Regions from separate parts of the Homo sapiens genome. Here region 2 is reported to be linked to region 1. The links are microRNA targets in miRTarBase. Many come from high-throughput screens and were not tested one by one. Region 1 holds a microRNA gene; the other region holds the end of a gene's coding sequence. Distances are from middle to middle.
The links. The annotated mature microRNA hsa-miR-30c-1-3p reads CUGGGAGAGGGUUGUUUACUCC and lies in region 1 at 2,983-3,004, opposite strand. An mRNA with a match to its seed (bases 2 to 7 or 8) in the 3' UTR can be bound and repressed. Matches are read on the target gene's strand: a 7mer-m8 pairs with bases 2 to 8, a 7mer-A1 pairs with bases 2 to 7 and ends in A, and an 8mer does both.

Region 1 (4,389 bases):
CTCCTGCTTTGGCCTCCCAAAGTGATGGGATTATAGGTGTGAGCCACCGCACCTGGCCAAATCATAATTACTTAAATCTACCTCCTAACTGGGCATGGTGGCTCATGCCTGTCATCCCACCACTGTGGGAGGCCAAGGTGGGAGGATGGCATAAAGCCAGGAGTTTGAGACCAGCCTGGGAAACATAATGAGACCCCATCTCCACAAAAAAATTAAAAATTATCCAGGTGTGGTGGCACATGCCTGGGAGTCCCAGCTCCTCGGGAGGCTGAGGCAGAAGGACTGCTTGAGCCCAGTAGTTTGAAGCTGCAGTAAGCTATGATTGTGCTACTACACTCCAGCCTGAGTGACGAAGTGAGAACTTATCTTTAAAAAAACATCAATCAATCAATCTACCTCTACTCCATTTTTTTTTCTTCTAGGCAAACTCAGCTCCTTATTAGAATATACGAGGCTGTCCAGGATGTGTTTACTATCTATCTTTCCAAACTTGCGTAGATGGTCCCCTACGCTGACTACTTTCCTACGGCCCCCTGTACTGTTTCTCACCTCTGAGCCTTTGCCTGTGCTGTGCCCTCTACTGGCAATACCACCCTTTCCCACTTTCTTTGATTAATTTCCACTGTTCCCCAAGACTCATATTATTCCCTTCAGAAACATTATCTGACCACCTCGTTCACATCTTTCTCAGCTACTCATCCCCTCCCCTACATACATACACACACATATACATATATATACACACATATATAATACACACACACATACACACACACACACACATATACTTTTTTTTGTTTTTTTTTTGAGACAGGATCTTGCTCTGTCACCCTGGCTGGAGTGCAATGGCACAATCACAGCTCACTGTAGCCTTGACCTCCTTGGCTCAAGCGATCCTCCCAACTCAGCCTCTTAAGTAGCTGGGGCCATAAGAGCATGCCACCATGGCTGGCTAATGTTCTGATGTTCTGGTGGAGACAAGGTCTCACCATGTTGCCCAGGCTGGTCTTGAACACGTGGGCTCAAGCAATCCTCCTGCCTCGGCCTCCCAAAGTGCTGGAATTACAGACATGAGCCACCACATGCCCCTGCCTTTTTTTTTTTTTTTTAATTAAAGAAGAGGTCTTGCTGTGCTGCCCAGGCTGAAGTGCAGTGGCATGATCCTACCTCACTGTAACCTCAAACTCCTGGGTTCCTCCCACATTGGCCTCCCAAAGTGTTGGGATTACAGGCATGAGCCACTGCGCTGAGCCAAGGTACTTCTTTTAATGTGTTCCTTTAACACCCTGTACACATTCCCACGTGGTGGTACAACCTTTAAGTATTTGTATCCCCAACTAAATTGTGAATTCCTTGAAAATAAGGACTGTTTTATTCATGCTTGTATCCCCAATACATAGCACAGAACTTTACCCTCAGAGGATGCTCAGTGTTTGATGAATAAATAATGATTGACAGAGAATTTGGATTCAGAGCTCATAGTACAGAGTTCTCTGCAGCCTCACATGACCCCCAACAAACATGAATGCTACTGCTCTTAACACTACTACTGGGGAGAGAAAGAGTCCTCTGATTACTATCGTAAAAAGAGAAGGTCACTTAACACAAATATGGGACAGAGAAATGACGGGGAGAAGGAGTATGCAACTTGGCAATGATACCTAATCTCTCCCTTTAAGGGCACAAATTCCACTTCTCACACAGACACACAGACAGCAGGCATGGAGTTCACTTTAGCACCTCTACTCTTCATAAGGCATTTCAGACATTTTTTTTTCCCTTCTAAAATTTCTGAGCTAATAGGGATCCTGGAGAACATACTGTCTAGTACACTTTCCTCATTTGACCTTTGAGAAAAACAGGGTCCAGAGAGATTAGGGTAACATCTCACCCCAGTAGCTGAATCTGGGGAAAAGTTCCAGTTTCCAGACTTTAAATCCAGTGCTCTATAATGATCTGGCTGCCTCTCTGCCCTCATCAAGCTCTGCCCATCCAAAAACCTAAGGGGCACTGTCTTGCTGGATGGGCATCCTCAGCAGCTCACAGACCTGGCCCTGCTGAGGCTGTGCGATGATGATCTGCCCAGGCTGGATGGTGGTCGTGGAGCTGGTGGTCTGCTGGCCTTGCTGCTGGCCCTGGACTTGGACAGCGGTGGGTTGCTGAGCCAGCGTGAAATAGTACTGGACTGGCTCGGCAGGAGTTACAGACTGGCGCACCTCCTCCTGTTGGGTGGAAAGAGAGGCAGGTAAGAGGAAAAGAACCAACTCAGCAGCCGCCACAGTGAATTTCCACTCTTCCCCCAAACAGGCTATGTGCAGTTGCCTGCTGAATGCTGAGCTCTCCACATTTGAAGCCAAAGGAAAGTGGAATTCAAAGAGACCAGTTATGCTAAATCAAACTAAAAATAACAGATCCTATAGGCTTCACAAAACATACAGCCAATTTCTGAAGTACGAAATAATCACCCATTGCATGATAAGTTGCAAACGGGCAAATAAGTACCGTAACTAAAAACCACACACCAGCAGTGCTTGTCAGTAAATGCTGTCAAGGCCTGTGATCTGAGAACAGTGCTAATTGCAAGTGTTGGGAAGATGCTACCCAAACATCATGCCTCTCAGGCCTGGTCCCAATCTCCCAAATAGGCAGCACTCTTCTCGTTTTAGCCCCACCACTTCAAGGGGGACAGAACAGGTTAATGGGAAACAGGGCTTTTCCTGAGCTGAAATTTCAGGATCGAGAGCACTGGTAGGCAAGTACCCAGCTTTTCACAGCTTGTTGAAAGCTCTGTGGTCACTGAGGGCATGTCTATCCAGTGTCACATCTGGTTCTGGTTGTACTTAGCCACAGAAGCGCAACCCAGGGGGCCTGATGGACAGCTCTCCGCTGGGGTACTGCCTTGGCTGATTAGGGAGGTCGCATTCTGTCCGATCTGCGGAGTGGAGACTGTTCCTTCTTCAGCTGATGTTTTCCATGGCAGAAGGAGTAAACAACCCTCTCCCAGCCACCTTGAGCTCACAGCTGAGAGTGTAGGATGTTTACACACACTACAGCATGGTTATAGCCCACAGGGTCCAGGGTTGATCAGCCCCTGACCACTGACACAGAACGGCGTCTGATCCGGAGTGACCTGTGTGACACATGGTGCCCCTGCCTGGGACAACAAAAACAATAAAAACACAGAACCACTTGGGCTGGCTGAGTAAAAATATTAGCTAAATTTACTCATGTCCTTATTCAGGGCAAAGTTTGCCACGTTCCAGAAAAGAGGAAAAGACACTTCTTAGATGTACACAGACCCTGTGGATTGCCTCCAACTCCCCAAAGTAACATTTACAAAGCTGGTATTGACCCCATCCCCACACTATGTTAGGTGCCCTCAACTGTGCTTCCAAAGTACTGTCCTCACAGTATACATTTTTGCACTTGCATGTCAAATTAACTGTCTGTTCTACTAAAATGTTAAGCACCATGAGGGCAAAGCCTAGCTCTCTCTTGCTCTCTGCTATCCCCCGCGTTCCCAGGTAGGCACTCAGTAAGTGCGTGATGAATGATGAATGGATTTAGACAGGCAGACAGTTAGAGGCAGGAAAGTAGTTCTCTGAATCCAACTTGCTGATATGACAAATTCTCTTAAACCCAACAGCTGTTACCAATAGAAAAAAGTAGTCTCTAAACTCTCTTTTGGTACCTCTAAGACTCTGTGGCCACAGTGTGAGGAAGCAGCTAGTGTCCCCTGTGGAACAGAGCTGAGTATCCTTTGTTTGCCTGATGTCTGGGGGCTAGGATACTAAAACTAGGACTGCCAGTATCTACCCCTGAGAAACATGGGTCTCTGCATGACATGGTTACTTGACAGCCATCTACCCAGCTTAGGGAGATACCTGTAACATTCTGGGTTTCTAAGTTAATATATGAACTGACTTTTTAGGTTGATATAGTCTGTGCTTCAGACACAAATAGTTTTAACCCTCAATATGATTATGCTAAGGCAGAAGGAAAAGGAGATTCCCTTTTATTTTCATCTAGGTCTCAATTTCCACAACAATTTCAACCCCAACTTATCATCATTATAAATAAATGTCAGCCTGGAAACTAGGTATTGGCTGTGGCAAAGCTAAAATACTGATACCTTTTGCAGCCAAGAAACAGAAGCCAACTGCTCTTTGCAAAGCTATTGAAGTAGGTTCAAGGTACTTGTGTTCCACTGAGATCTCCCTTATTATTTTACAAAAAGCACAAATCACTGAAATCCAGACCTAACTTGGAAAAGCTCTTGGGTAATGAGAGGGTATACAGGAATGAGAGCCTCAGAACCAGCTGTGTAGGAAGCTAGGCAGCAGGGAGACACCTGCATTTTCTAGCCGTGACCTGTGATTGTTTAGTCTC
Region 2 (4,000 bases), 21 Mb from region 1:
CAGAGGGTGCAGGTCTCGGCCATGTACCCCTTTGCCCCTTTCTGAGAGGGGCAGATGCCCAGCCCAGTGACCCAGAGCCTCACCCCAGGAAGCGGGTCCATGCAGCAAATCAGCCAGGCACTGGCATGGTGGCCCCCAGGCCTCCACCGCCTCACCAGTCCCTGTTCAATCTGCTGATAACGCCTTTCCTCCCTTGCAGGTCTGTGCAGACTTTTGCAGACAAATCAAAACAAGAAGCTCTGAAGAATGACCTGGTGGAGGCTTTGAAGAGAAAGCAGCAATGCTAAACCTCTGTTTCATGCTAACCAGACACGCCGTGCACTCGTTAGATTCCTTTCTTAGAAAACTCGTTTTCTGCTCCCTTCCCTCGTCCCTTCCCTCCCCGACAGGTCACATAACAGCTGCATCATTGACCGCACAGCGCCATCTCTCCCTGAGAATAAAGCCGATAGCCACCCTCCTCCGGCTCCGAGCCTGCTTCTGCCACACCTCGCTCTCAGTTCTCTCCACATTTCCATAGAGACCGTGTGGTTTTTGTTCACCCGGGCCCCCCGTCTTCCTCCCTGTCCCCCCATTTATAGGCATAAAATCCACTGTCTGCCAGCCTCCCTTCCCTCCCACCTTTTTGGTACATTGGTGTAAAAAATGTAAAACAAAAAAATTTTATGAACTAACTGTGGTGTGTGAAAGAGAGAAGAAAAACTGGAAATCTTATTCCGTGTGTGTTTGGGAGTTGCTTGGGGTTGGGGGTCGTGGGGACAGGGGACAGCTCTGGGAGCAGAGGTGGCCCTCGGTGCCGTCCTGCGCAGACTCTCCCGTCCCACGGAGGCCGCGGGGTGGGGGCTGGGGGGGGTGCCGCCGACCGTTCCGCTCTTCCGGCCAGGTGCTTTTCTGTCAATTTCTATGGAATGCAAAAGGAGGTTTTTGTTTTATTTTGTTTTTTTGTAAAGCTTAAGAAAAAAATCTACATCTTATACTTGAGCCTCCATACTTAAAAAAAGAAAAGAAAAGAAATCAATAAAAAGAAACTGGGGCGCAGTTAGCGCTGGCCTTCTGTGTTCCTTCTCGCCGGCCTCGCTTTCCGAGCGCGTGTGGCCGTGGCCGTGCGCTGGCTCCAAGCTGGGACGCGTGTGGGCCCCGCTCACGGCAGCAAGGAAGTGTCCCGTCCCCAGCCCCGCCGCCCTGAAAACACCAGGTATGTGATGAGGTGCAGAGTCCCTGTCCCTTTCCGCCCTCTGCCGTTGGAGGGCAGAAGCACCAGCAAACACTGTTCTGGCGCCGCAGCACGCACCTCCCGCCGCCTTCCCACTGTGCCTAGTACAAATGTGAGGCAGCCGAGGTTCAGTTGCAGTAACTCAGCCAAGGCTGCACAGAGCCACAGAGTCTGCCTTCTACCCTCCAAACTGCCCCAGGGAAGATCTGAAGCAGATCTCAAAGTCCCTGCCGAGACCATCCCCCCATCTGTCCGTGGCCAATCAGCGGGCTCCACAACCTGGCCAGCCCATGTGTTTGAGGTCCCTGGGTCTGATGCAACATCTTTTTTTTTGAGACGGAGTTTCACTCTTGTTGCCCAGGCTGGAGTGCAATGGCATGATCTTGGCTCACTGTAACCTCCGCCTCCCAGGTTCAAGCGATTCTCCTGCCTCAGCCTCCTCAGTAGCTGGCATTACAGGCATGTGCCACCATGCCCAGCTAACGTATTTTTAGTAGAGACGGGGTTTCTCCTTGTTGGTCAGGCTGGTCTCGAGCTCCCGATCTCAGGTGACCCTCCCGCCTCCCAATGTGCTGGGATTACAGGCGTGAGCCACCGCACCCGGCCGATGCAGTATCTTTATGGAGTGCAAGTGCCATGGCATACAGACAGCAGAGAAGCCCCTGCCCCCTGAGTTCCTAGTGCCACGTGGAGAACGCAGGCACACTCCAGCCGTGAGCCATGAGGGGATGCACCCAGCGAGCCGTTCCCCATGGGCACACGGGTGTTGCAGCCTCCCGGGGTCATGTTGGCAAGGTGCCTGGCACACAGAAGGGCCCAGCGAGCTGTTCCCCATGGGCACACGGGTGCTGCAGCCTCCCGGGGTCATGTTGGCAAGGTGCCTGGCACACAGAAGGGGCTGGAAAAACAAATGTTTTGCTTTTCATTTTCTTTCATGGTAAAGTTTTATCCAGGATCATCAAGGTAGGTACAGGGGCCACTGCAGTGGGGTCTTGTGGATGGGGAGAGAGATTGGGCTCAACTCTGAGTGCAGCAGCACGGGCAGGTGGGGATTAGAGCCAAGGAGCAGAGGGGGGCAGTGGGTGGAAAATGACTCAGAGGAAACCTCAGGGGTCAGGGGTCTTCCGGCCAAACACACCTAACAGGATTCTTGCTGAAGACAGGCCAGGGTGACCAGACATCACCTGGGGGTGGGGGTGGAGGATGAGGCCAGGTGTGGTGGCTTACGCCTACGATCCCAGCACTTTAGGAGACCAAGTTGGGAGGATGGCTTGAGCCCAGGGCTTTGAGACTAGCCTGGTTAACATAGACCCCATCTCTACAAGAAATACAAACCAGGCGTGGTGGTGTGCACCTGTGGTCCCAGCTACTTGGGAGGCTGAGTTGGGAGGATCACTTGAGCCTGGGAGGTTGAGGCTGCAGTGAGCCGAGATCGTACCACTGTACTCCAGCCTAGAAGACAGTGAGATCCTGTCTCAAAAAAAGAAAAAAAATATCAAGGATGGCCGTTTTTGTAAAATTGACTTAGCAAGGGATTGCTGAAACTGGATTTTACAAGGGCACACAGGTGGGCCTAGGGGAAGGTTCAGGAGCCTGACTAAAGTTTGGCCAAGCAAATAATCTTTGGCAGTTGTCACTTCAAGAAGAAACTGGACAAATGGAAAATGCCTTTCCTTGGACACATGAGAGGAGCTGAGGTCGCAAGGGAAAAACAGCCACCCCTGAAGTCAGTGAGACAGGCACACCGGGAACGCCACAGCAGAGGCCTGCTGTCCTGCAGCAGAGGCTGCTAGGCTGGGAGCTGCTGTGCACGCCAGTGGTAATTCCACAGAACTGCAGAGGTGGAGTGGACTCTGACTCACCTGAGAGTCACCCCTGGAGGCTCAGGCCCGCTCTCCTCTCAGGGGATTTCCCTTCAGGAAACCCACCAGTTGCTCCTTGAGCTGTCACTTTCATCAGCCGTACAATCCTGGGACCAAAAATAATGCTTGAAACCCAGAAATTGTGACTGCGATGTATGACAGGCCTGATCTTGCTCTGCTATCTAGAATCTTCCACAGGGACCCTCACTACCAGTTGGGTTTTTTTGTTTTTGTAGAGACGGGCCCTCACCCTGTTGCCCAGGCTGGTCTCAAACTCCTGGCTTCAAGCGATCCCCCACCTCAGTCTCCCAAAGTGCTAGGATTACAGGTGTAAGCCACCACGCCCAGCCCTCATTGCTAGTGTTGTGTTGTTTTGTTTTATGATGGAGTCTTGCTCTGTCACCCAGGCTGGACTGCAGTGGCGTGATCTCGGCCCACTGCAACCTCCACTTCCCAGCTTCAAGCGATTCTCCTGCCCCAGCCTCTCAAGTAGCTGGGACTACAGGTGCCCGCCGCCACGCCCAGCTAATTTTTGTATTTTTAGTAGAGGCCGGGTTTCGCCATGTTGGCCAGACTGGTCTCGAACTCCCGAATTCAAGCGATCCCTCCCCCAACTTGGCCTCCCAAAGTACTGGAATTACGGGTGTGAGCCACCGCACACAGCCCTCACTGCTAGTGTTTTAATGCTAAACTCAGCTGGTGAGATTGGGGACAGTGGGCCTCGAGGATGTGTTTGGTGACCCTCTCCCACTTCCCAGCCATGCCTTTCCCTGCTCGTTCCTTGGCTGCCTGGTGAGGAAAGCTCTGGGGTCCAGCAGGGCACCTCGGGCATCCCTAAGAAGAGAACGAAGGCGTATGGGAGCCCCTGGGGTTCATGGGCTGCAGGCTACAGACTCCTGGGGTTTGGCAGCAGCAGAGATGTCCC

Region 2: the mRNA of CAPZB is a reported target of hsa-miR-30c-1-3p. The part of its 3' UTR that is shown has no 7-base or 8-base seed match.

What each region holds. Positions count from the first base shown.
Region 1 is chr1:40,755,954-40,760,342 of GRCh38, reverse strand. It overlaps MIR30C1 (microRNA 30c-1), which reads right to left and starts at 3,059; the gene lies at 2,971-3,059. NFYC (nuclear transcription factor Y subunit gamma) reads right to left here. Exons shown (of 10, transcript NM_014223.5): 6 at 2,049-2,222.
Region 2 is chr1:19,335,817-19,339,816 of GRCh38, reverse strand. It overlaps CAPZB (capping actin protein of muscle Z-line subunit beta), which reads left to right. Exons shown (of 9, transcript NM_004930.5): 9 at 200-1,042. The coding sequence ends at 287. Among named protein-coding and RNA genes, the nearest start is that of SLC66A1, 25 kb to the right of the region's middle. RefSeq lists enhancers at 1-332, 1,499-2,463.